Linked DNA regions of Homo sapiens. The protein of the gene in region 1 interacts with the protein of each later gene in a pairwise test. Each region holds a gene or a part of one and is shown in the gene's direction. Other genes may lie near its edges.

Region 1 (3,434 bases):
TTACTCCGGTTGGGTGCTGACTTCAGGGACAGGAAAAAGCAAGGTTTGCAAAGAGTGAAACTAGTGTATATTCCGTATCTTGGTAGTTCGTTTCTGGATTGGGTTTAGTTTCAGAACTGGACTTGTTCCTTCACTGCCACAGAATCAGAAAGAGCTAGAAGAAAAGGCTCACCTGGCCACTGTTTAGGCACCCAGACATAATTTATGGACGAAATGCCTAAAAATGTGCCAGGCATGCTCTGTTTGAGAGGCTTTTTCTAACCCCAAATCTTAGATCTGCCAGGTAGTTCAACATCTTCCAAGTGTGCTGGTTCTGCTTTCCAATGCCTGCTTCCCAATTTTGGATCCATGAGCTATACAGCTGCATGCTTTGACTGCCGGAAAAATTAATCTTGCTTCTTCATCAGGTCTTTCTCCTGTACTTGTGATCAGAAATTACCTTTGACGTGCAGTGACAGTTGATTTCCTCTTGAACTGCCGGTGAAAACAGTCTAGTACACAGGTGCTGTCAGCCCAGGGTGGGAGCAGGAAATGATTGCTGAGCCCGGGGCAGGGGAATTGCATCTGCAGGAAAGAGATGCAGCATGCTCCTCACTCCTGAGTGCCCACCTGTCCTGCTTCTCTGCAGGTGAAAACTCTGGGGGATGCTGATCAATAGAGCTTGGTCCCAAGCTCTACTGGGCCCTTGGAGGTAGCAAGGCCACTGGGTTGCTATCCTCTTGCTGGGGATAGCAACCACTGGTTTGCAACCACTGGGTTGCTATCCTTTTGCTATCCTCTTGCTCATGACCAGCCATATGGTGAGGCTGGGGAGTTCACATCCTCAGGCAGGAACTAGCAGTTGTTTATCCAGCAATGCCTCAAGGATGTTGCATTGCTCCCAGGAACTGGCTATTAGGTATGTCTTGTGCGGTCAGTCAGCATCACAGACACATAGATGCTCACCAGCCTGGCTTAGCTGGGACCTAAATCTTCTGGTGAAAAGCTTTTCACTAAGTGAGGTTCCTTCCCTGCAAATGCTGAATCTAGCCTAATTCGCAACCACACAGAATTTCATGGCTTTCAAAGGCTTGCCATGTGCCCCATCTCATTCTATACTCACATCCCATGGAGGTGAGGATTTTCACTTCTTTTCTCTAGACTTGGAAGCTGAGATTCAGAGAGGAAGCATCCCTTGTGCAAGATCACATAGTCAGGAGGTGACACAGGGCTAAGACTTGAACCAAGGCTCTAAGAGGATTTCTTCTTTTCAGAGTCTCTTCCCTGTCCATTTCTGTGACTAAGCTGTGCAGAGGTTGACAGCAGGGCAAGTTACATTGATATTCATCCTTTATAGGCTTCCTGCTAAAAAGCTTCTGAGATTGTGGTCTTCCAAAAAAAATAGGAGCTTGGTTGAAGTCCCCACATTTTCAAGCACTCAGTGTTCTGCCTCTGGCAGCTGTGCTAACAGCTCAGTGCTGTCCTGGGAGTCCTCTGACTCAGAACCCTCGAAGCATCCTGCATTGTCTTTACCCACCATCATCTTCACTAAGAGAAACATGCCTACCCATGAAGGCGTGTTTGATTACTCCAGGCTTCTGGACACACATACCCATGGGTGATTTTTGCTCCTCAGGCCCAATATTCTCAGACAGCCCAGCAGTGTGAACACACAATGCCAGGCCAGGAACTGGGACCACCATCTTGCTGATGGAAGGAACAACAGGTGGCCCAGGACATGCTCCTGCATACTCCTGGGTGTCCCAGGGACTGTGTGCTCAGGAGCACTGTGGTAGAGCACTGGCCCTGCCTTGAGAAGAGACACAGGTCTCCCGTCCCTGCACCAGCTGAGAGAGACTTGCCGCAAAGCACAAGGCTGGCAGAGATTTATGTATGACTTGCACAGACACAAAAATATACAGACAATCAAAACATTGATATATTCAAACTCTCCTTTAAATTCCAATCTTATTGCAACAACTCTGTGAATTGCAAGGTCCCAGAATCTGCCTTCTCACATACTCTACCCTCATTCATCCTTTTGGGCTAATTGATGAGCATCTTATTTCTTATCTCTAAAAATTATCAGCAAAGGCTACTTCAGATGGCCACTTTAGTCCTTTCAGCTGTAGTCAGGATTATTTAACTTACCTGTATATCAAAAGTGAAGAAAAAGTTAGTTCATAAGTAAAGGCACTAAATCCTTTCCTGACAATGGCAGAGTCTCTAGAGGTAGAAATTTGCCTTGCTGCAGAGAGAGAAGGAATGGCGTGGGATGGGGGAAAGAAAAGAAAGAGAAGAAGCTGGGGTCTCCAGGCAGGGTAGTAAGCTGACACTAAATATTTTTTACACAAAAATGTATTGAAGCAACAAATATTTCCTGAAGATCCACCCTGGGTGAGGCTTTGAGCTGACTTTAGAGATCACTGTGGGGTCAAGAATGTCTTACATGTTTTATTCATCATTCTTGAAAAAAGAAATAATTCAAACCTTGGAATTAAAAAGTCAGAAAAATATGGGATTTTCTTTCTGGAATTTTCGAGGTTTTCTTTTTACCTTTGCCAGAGTGTGGGGGCAGGACTGGGCCTGCCAGGGTGTATAGCCCTTCCTGCTTGGTGGAGGCCAGTCAGGCCCAGGGCCTTCTAAGCAGCAGTAGAAAGGAGGCTTGGGGAAGTGGGGGGTCTGGGTAGCAGGGGAAGGAGGCCAGTTCCAGTGTAGCCCCCTATCCCCTCCAGATGTGCTGCTTCTGGCTGTGCACTCAGTGACTGCCCTCACTGCTCAACCCTGTGCTGTGTGGTGTGTTTCTTTCCCCACTGACAGTGAATAAAAGGTGCAACTGTGCTGAGGGCTCCTGCTCTTCCCTACACTGGGACAGGATTGGGGTGGGGAGAAAGGGACAGAAGAGGCCTGGGGAGGCTCACTCAGTGAAGGGCCAAGGTCCTTGTTCTAGCAAGGACTCTGGGAACATGGCATGAGACTCACTTGAGCTAGTTCAAAGAAATGGGGGAGCAGATTATAAGGGACTCTGAAGATGGAAAATCAAGAATGACTGAACCTCAGGCCAAGCGCAGAGGCTCACACCTGTAATCCCAGTACTTTGGGAGGCCAAGGGGCAGATCACAAGGTCGAGATCGAGACCATCCTGGCCAACATACTAATAATACAAAAATTAGCTGGGCATGGTGGTGCACGCCTATAGTCCCAGCTATTCGGGAGGCTGAGGCAGGAAAATTGCTTGAACCCAGGAGGCTGAGGTTGCAGTGAGCAGCGGAGGTTGCAGTGAGCCGAGATCGCACCACTGCACTCCAGCCTGGTGACAGAGCAAGACTCCATCTCAAAAAAAATAAAAAAATAAAAATAAAAATAAAATAAAAACTGGCTGAACCTCAAGAGAACTGGAACTGGCAACTGGGCCTCTTCCTTACCATCTCTGGGTCTTGCAGGCTCTTGTTCCC
Region 2 (3,748 bases), 1.4 Mb from region 1:
CTCAGTCACTTCATTTTTCAGGTGGTGAACCTGAGACCCAAGGAGAACAACAGTCCATCCACGGGCCACACAATTACTGCTCTTATCTTTTCTACCTTTAATAGCAAAGAGACTTTTGCCCTTCTACCCCTTCAGCTAGTGAGCCACAACCACACAAGAAAGAATAGTACCCGCTACTCAAATGGGAAGCTGGAAAGCAGATGGAGGAGAAAATGTCATTGCTGACCAGGTTGCTGTGGGTCCTGAGGAGAGAACAACTCCAGAGACAACTCTGTTAGGACTGCCTCGGTCTCCTGTGCCCACTGCACCCCTTCCCCACTGCAGTGCCAGGTGGAGGCCAGTAGCTAGGAGAGTGCTTAGCCGTCTTGGGACCCTCAAGCTCTTTTCACTTTTTTTTTTTTTAAAGACGGAGTCTCTGTCATCCAGGCTGGAGTGCAGTGGCGCGATTACAGCTCACTGCAGCCTTGAACTCCTGGGCTCAAGCAGTTCTCCCACCTCAGCCTCCCAAGTAGCTGGGAACACAGGCACATGCCACCACACCTAGCAAATTTTCTGTAGAGATGTGGTCTCACTGTATTGCCCAGGCTGGTCTCAAACTCCTGGCTTTAAGTGATCCTTCCGCCTCAGCCTCACAAAGTGCTGTGATTACAGATGTGAGCCACTGCACCCAATTTTTTTTTTTTTTTTTGAGACCAATTCTCACTCTGTCCCCCAGGCTGGCGTGCAGTGGCGCAATCTCGGCTCACTGCAAGCTCCACCTTCCAGGTTCAAGCGATTCTCCTGCCTCAGCCTCCCGAGTAGCTGGGATTACAGGCGCCCACCACCATGCCCGGCTATTTTTTTTTTTTAATAGAGACGGGGTTTCACCTCTTCACCAGGCTGATCTCGAACTCCTGACCTCGTGATCCACCTGCCTCAGCCTCCCAAAGTGCTGGGATTACAGGCGTGAGCCACCACGCCCAGCCCAACTTTTTTTTTTTTAATCCAATTTTTTTTAAAATTTTTATTATATTCTTTGGGCATGAGTGTTGATGTAGAAGATAACAAAGGGACCCTAAGGCCCAAAACAGAAAGCAAGGCAAATGATCAATGGTGCAACTATTCTAAATCCAATGACATACATACACACACACACACACACACATATGCCCTTGCTAATATTGCCATTGCCCCACAGTGCCTTACACATATATGGTAAGAGGTACAAAGAATATGTGAGGCAACCAAGTACAAAAAAATGGAAGTACGTACAAGAGGGGAATTGTCTAGATTTTCTTTTCAGTGCACAGAAGACAAAGTGCAAACTCTGTGTCTTGGCCTTTGGTCTGGGCCACTCTTCCAGTCTTCCCACAGACTTTGATCATGCAGTTTGGGTTGGCAGTAGCTGGGCACAGCCTTTTCTTGACCCTCCACCCTCTACCTCCCACAGCATTTCACCAGCTCAGCTGCTAGGAATTCTGTTAGGAACCAGAGGCCAAGGTATAAAAGATGGAATAGGATGCTGTTCTCTGACTTCTCTATCCCAGAGACTCTTGAAGCTTCTTTGATTCTTTGTCTCCCATAGTTTGTATCTACTTGAACAAGAATGGCAGCACAGGCCCCCACTTAGATAAGAAGAAGGTCCAGCAACTCCCTGACCATTTTGGACCAGCCCGTGCCTCTGTGGTGTTGCAGCAGGCTGTCCAGGCCTGTATCGACTGTGCTTATCACCAGAAAACCGTCTTCAGCTTCCTCAAGCAAGGCCATGGTGGTGAGGTTATCTCAGGTAAGCACACTTTGGCTCATATTGCCTCCCAGCCAGAAGGACCCACCTTCTCAACTGGTTGATTTCTTGTAAGGCATCCTGGTTCCCACTTCATACCTGCAGGCTCTGGAAAAATGTGAAGGTATTCCATTCCTCATCTCCAACCCCCCAAGAGCCCCTCTGAGCCTTATGCATACCTCTGCCAAGGAGAATACCCACAGATTCTGCTTCAGTGAGCCTCTAAACTGATTCCCCCCATCTACCTGATTGACCTGTCCGTACAGAAAGTATAGGAGAAAGAATCCAGAGGGGGCTATGTTGTGGCAGCAGGAGGGTTTCTCCAGACTGTTGCAGCCTCCCACCTGGTTTCAGGAACCACTGAACTCCTCTATCATTCCTTTGATTCCTTAGCTTCCTCGTCCTAAACCAGGCCCAGAAGAAGAGAATTAAATCCCAGGGTGGTTGGGAAAAGTCATTTCCTTTTTCTTTACTGCTATGAGAGTTTGATTCAGTGACACAGTGTTTTTTGCTCTCACAGAATACTCATTTTTTCTCCTGTGTCCTGATTCTGTTTCAGTTTTCCTAAATCCAAAATCCTGTTTAGCCACTAAACCTATGAAGACTTGACCTAGAGCCTTTCAGTCTTAACTGATGCTATTCCATATTCCCCTGCCCCTCCTCCCTAGCAGGTTGTAATAACCAGCTTCAGGAAACCCCGCTGGCATGGAAGACTCCATAAATAACCAGACTGTATTATTTTAGCAAACATTTATTGAACCCTTACTATGTGTCAGGTGATTGCCAGACACTGGTCAGGAGAAGGGGAGAATAGAAGATGACAGCTTAGGCTCCATACCAGTGAAAAAGAAAGAATATACATAGCTAACTGTGAGAAGTGCTGTAATAGGGAAATGTATACAGAGTGGTGTGGGAACCCAGACTAGGGAGTACTTGGCTGTGAGGAGGATGGAGCAGACAGGCAGGGAATTTTTATAGAAGACTAGGAATTGGCCAGGTGCGGTGGCTCACACCTGTAATCCCAGCACTTTGGGAGGCTGAGGTGGGCGGATCACCTGAGGTCAGGAGTTGAAGACCAGCCTGGCCAACATGGCAAAACCCTGTCTCTACTAAAAAAAAATACAAAACATTAGCCAGGCATGGTGGTGCACGCCTGTAGTCCCAGATACTCGGGAGGCTGAGGCAAGAGAATTGCTTGAACCTGGGAGGCGGAGGTTGCAGTGAGCTGAGATCGTGCCATTGCACCCCAGCCTGGGTGACAGAGCAAGACTCCGTCTCAAAAAAAAAAAAAAAAAAAAAAGACTGGGAAGTGCCTGGGAAATTAAGCCTTATGTCCCTTCTGAGGCCCAGCCTACTCCCTGGTCTCTTCTTTGTTTCTGTGTAATGGTCTGTAGGAACCTGGCCTTCTTTACTGCCTCTCTTTAGCTGCTCTCCTATACCCTCTCTGGGGTTCTTCTCCTGCCTCAAAACTGGTTCTTGAGAATGACCTATCTCCCCAAATCCCCATGTCCTTGCTGCCCTCAGAGACAAATACACAGGTCTTTGCTTTTTAAGGTTTATACTGATACATTTTTATAGAAAAAGATGATAGGAAGTAAACTAACACCAAGCATGAAACAGTTCCAAATGTTGCCAAAATTCTAGTGCCCTTATGTAGATCAGAAATTGTGTACCCATACCATTGCTGGCTATGGCTATATTCTACTCTTCTGCCAAGCTTCTCTGTTCTTGGGCAGTTCTTGTGAAAATAGCACCCTAAATGAGCAGATTTCCTGGGGGAGGTCCAACCAAGTGATGGAGCAGAGAGAATTATGTTCACAGTTGTTTTCACAAGTTGAATAAAATCATTCCAGAGCCCAGGGTGCAACAGACCTGGCCTGGCCACTCCCATATTTGCAAGCCCTTTACAGTTGGAGGCAAAAATCAAAGCCCTCGAGGGAGGGAGTTAAAGGGAGGGAGGGAGGAAACGTGGGGCACTGATTCCCT
Region 3 (3,748 bases), on another chromosome or scaffold:
GGCAGAAGCCTTGTGCGGGGCCCCATGGCGTGGTGTGCACGGCCTGGCAGGGAGGATCCCGCAGCGGGACCAGCCCAAGCTGCCTCTCGAGGGCTCAGCCTCGTCTCCCTGCATGGGCGCAGGAGGATTTTCCTGTCCACTACCCTGAGGATGACGGCGGCAGCCAGGGCCCCCTCTGTTCACTGGACAGCAACCTCTCCCACTTCATCCTGGTGGAGCCAGGCCCCCCGGGGAAGGGCGATGGGCTGACGGAGCTGCGGCTGAGGCTGGAGAAGCACATCTCGGAGCAGAGGGCGGGCTACGGGGGTGAGACCCGCCCCAGCCACCCAGGGAAGCCTTGGGACCCAGTGGGGATCCAGGGACCCGCCTGTGGGAGAGTGGGGGTGACCGCCAGGGAGAAGGGGGAGGGCTTCCCAGGCAGAACGCACCCCGCATGCCTGAGCACCGAGACCTGGGCCGTGGGGGCCTGGGCCGTGGGGGCCTGGGAGGAGGAGCTGTCTGGGCAGAGTGGTGAAGGAGGCACAGCTGGACAGAGTGGCTCTGACTGGACAGTGACATTCCCACCAGAGCAGGTGCAGTTCTGTTTTCACTGGGCCTTGCCGTGGTCAGAGGCTCCGGGACTCTAAGAGGCAAAATGAGATCGTGAGTTGAAAGAGGGCTACTTCCCGCCGCCAGGCGTGAGGTATGCTGCCGCCAGAGGGCAGCGTCACCCGAGAAATGGGCACCTCTGGCCAGTCGCACGTTCAAAAGCTGGACTTACTAAGAAAACGCTAGTGTGTAAATAATATTCATAAACAAAGCATATAATTATTTATAACATCTATGAACAATATACAATATTTAGAAACAGAATTGTAATTTCTTGGCAAGGCCAACTGAGCCCTCTGTTTTTTTTTTTTTTTTTTGAGGCAGAATCTCACTCTGTCCCCCATCCCCCAGGCTGGAGTGCAGGAGTGCAATCTCGGCTCACTGCAGCCTCCACCTCCCAGGTTCCAACAATTCTCCTGCCTCAGCCTCCCGGGTAGCTGGGATTATAGGCATGTGCCACCATGCCCGGCTCTTTTTTTTTTTTTTTTTTTCCCAGTAGAGACGGGGTTGCACCATGTTGGCCAGGCTGGTCTTGAACTCCTGATCTCAGGTGATCTGCCTGCTTTGGCCTCCCAAAGTGCTGGGATTACAGGCATGAGCCACTGTGCCCGGTCAACTGAGCACTCTTTAGAATTGAAAACACAAAGTCTCGTCAAACTCTAGGGACACAGGCGGAGGGTCTGGCTCTGCTCTGCGGAAGCCCTGCTGGCCCGGGCACCGTTTGGCCAGGCCTGATTTATCCTCCAGATTCAATCAGGAGGCACCTTTCAAAGTCAGGGGCCCGCCTGCGAGCCCAGTTCCCTGTGGGTGATTCTAAGGCACCTCCAGGCAGTTCACTCCCTCACAGAAGACAGGGGCAGGTCCAGGCCTCTCTGGGGGCTTCACATATAGACATCTCATTTCCAGCTTCTGTTTGGGGGAGAAACCTGAAGACTCCCTCCTGTACCTCTTCAGTTTGCTGAGTGGTCAGGCGCAGCCCACCCAGCAGAGCTCCCTCGATGGTCGAGATGCTGCCTCTGCCATGCTCAGCATGAGCGCGTGCAGTGTGGCAGTGCACCTGTAGGGCTGGGTGCTCCGTTTCTTCCACGTCACTTTGTGTTTTAACAGCCATATGCCAGCTGTTGCCACAAAGTGCGCGTGCTGGGTAGTGTAGGTTAGCATTGGAGCCCTCGGCCCTCATATGGCAGGGGCTGTAATAAGCAGCCTGTGTCACGTGGCCCAGACGAAGCCCACACTTTATTCGGAAGAGCCAGCTTTTGGCCAGAAAATGTGGTGGCCTGAGAGCCTGAGATCCGGGTGGTCACCCCAGGCGGAGGGTCCTCAGGCCTCACGGGTGCCCTGTCCACAGGCACTGGCAGCATCGAGATCCCTGTCCTCTGCTTGCTGGTCAATGGTGATCCCAACACCTTGGAGGTAGGGGCCTGGCTGAGGCCCCCTGGCTGGCCGAAGCCTTGTGGAGGGGTGCGGTGGGTTCTGGGCACCCCTGGGACAGGGCTGAAGGGATGGGGGCACCCCTGACACCTGCATCCAGATGTCGTCGGGCTAATCTGGGGTCCGCTCTCCCCTCCCTCCCCGTCTCAGAGGATCTCCAGGGCCGTGGAGCAGGCTGCCCCGTGGCTGATCCTGGTAGGCTCGGGGGGCATCGCCGATGTGCTTGCTGCCCTAGTGAACCAGCCCCACCTCCTGGTGCCCAAGGTGGCCGAGAAGCAGTTTAAGGAGAAGTTCCCCAGCAAGCATTTCTCTTGGGAGGACATCGTGCGCTGGACCAAGCTGGTATGTGCTGCCCCCTCCCCTGTCCTCCCGACCCCTCCTCCGGGGGTGGGGCTGGTCCTCTGGGAGAGTTCCTGCAATGCAGCCTCCAGCCCACTCCTCCCACCTCAGGCTGCTGGGCCCCCCACCCACTCTCGCTTCAGGCCCACAGGGAGCAGAGAGACCCAGGCAGCCCCTTGGTCTGCGGGTGGTCCCAGGCCGGGCCCGGTGGGCGGTGGGCATGCAGGCTGCAAGGCTCACCTGGGGACGCTGCCTGTGCCTACGCTGGTGTCTACCACGGCCTGCCTCTGCCCCCGTCCTGGCTGAGGCGGCCCCATGGGGGCTCTGTTCTGGTGCCCAGCTGCAGAACATCACCTCACACCAGCACCTGCTCACCGTGTATGACTTCGAGCAGGAGGGCTCCGAGGAGCTGGACACGGTCATCCTGAAGGCGCTGGTGAAAGGTGAGGGCGGGCAGGGTGGGCAAGGCAGGCGCCATTGGGGGGCTTCATGCTCAGAGCCGCTTTGGGGTTTGGCAGCCTGGCCAATGTTTGTGACGCTCGGCCGCCTGCCCCTTCCCAGGAAAGATGACACATGATTCATGAAGCTGTCTGTATTTGGCAAGTTTTATGACGTGTTTTTTACCACAACTTAAAACTATACTTAAAGCTCTCAATTCAGTGGTATTTTTTTGGTGGGGGGGTTGTTTTTTGTTTGTTTTGGTTTTCGGTTTTTTGAGACGGAGTCTCGCACTGTCGCCCAGGCTGGAGTGCAGTGCTGCGATCTCGGCTCACTGCAAGCTCCACCTCCCGAGTTGAAGTGATTCTCCTGCCTCAGCCTTCCAAGTAGCTGGGATTACAGGTGCACCCCACCATGCCCGGCTAATTTTGTTTTTGTATTTTTAGTAGAGACGGGGTTTCACCGTGTTAGCCAGGATGGTCTCGATCTCCTGACCTCGTGATCCGCCTGCCTCGGCCTCCCAAAGTGCTGAGGTTACAGGCGTGAGCCACCGCACTAGCCAATTCAGTGGTTTTTAGTATATTCGTGAGGTGGGGCGACCATCACTTTTATCTAATTCCAGAAGCCTTCATCGCCCCAGAAAGAGCCCATACCCCTTGGCACTCACTCCCCATTTCCCCCAGCCCCTGGGAACCATCGATCTGCTTCCTGTCTCTATAGATTTGCTGACGGGCATTTCGTGTCCATGGTTCCCTGCAGGCAGCGGGAGGGTTTGACGGTTCCTCCGTGTTGAAGCGTATGCCATTCCATGCTTCATTCCTTTTGTAAGGCGGAGTCAGGTTCCAGCCTGTGGACAGACCGTGGTTGATGCGTCTGTTCACCCGCTGATGGAAAATTTTGATGAGCATTTGATGTGCTTTTTGCTGGAGACGAACGCGTGCTGAAGGGCTGG

The links.
Region 2: the proteins of HPCAL4 (region 1) and SCMH1 interact in binary tests that used the Homo sapiens proteins (3 or more experiments, as listed by UniProt).
Region 3: the proteins of HPCAL4 (region 1) and TRPM5 interact in binary tests that used the Homo sapiens proteins (3 or more experiments, as listed by UniProt).

Annotation. Positions count from the first base shown.
Region 1 is NC_000001.11:39,678,034-39,681,467, reverse strand, and holds the end of HPCAL4 (hippocalcin-like protein 4), read left to right. Parts: 3' UTR 1-2,820; downstream 2,821-3,434. UniProt on the Homo sapiens protein: May be involved in the calcium-dependent regulation of rhodopsin phosphorylation.
Region 2 is NC_000001.11:41,046,707-41,050,454, reverse strand, and holds part of SCMH1 (polycomb protein SCMH1), read left to right. Parts: intron 1-1,564; coding exon 1,565-1,765; intron 1,766-3,748. UniProt on the Homo sapiens protein: Associates with Polycomb group (PcG) multiprotein complexes; the complex class is required to maintain the transcriptionally repressive state of some genes.
Region 3 is NC_000011.10:2,416,780-2,420,527, reverse strand, and holds part of TRPM5 (transient receptor potential cation channel subfamily M member 5), read left to right. Parts: intron 1-122; coding exon 123-306; intron 307-1,936; coding exon 1,937-2,001; intron 2,002-2,169; coding exon 2,170-2,361; intron 2,362-2,698; coding exon 2,699-2,801; intron 2,802-3,348; exon of another isoform or gene 3,349-3,748. UniProt on the Homo sapiens protein: Monovalent cation-selective ion channel activated by intracellular Ca(2+) in a voltage- and temperature-dependent manner. Mediates the transport of Na(+), K(+) and Cs(+) ions equally well.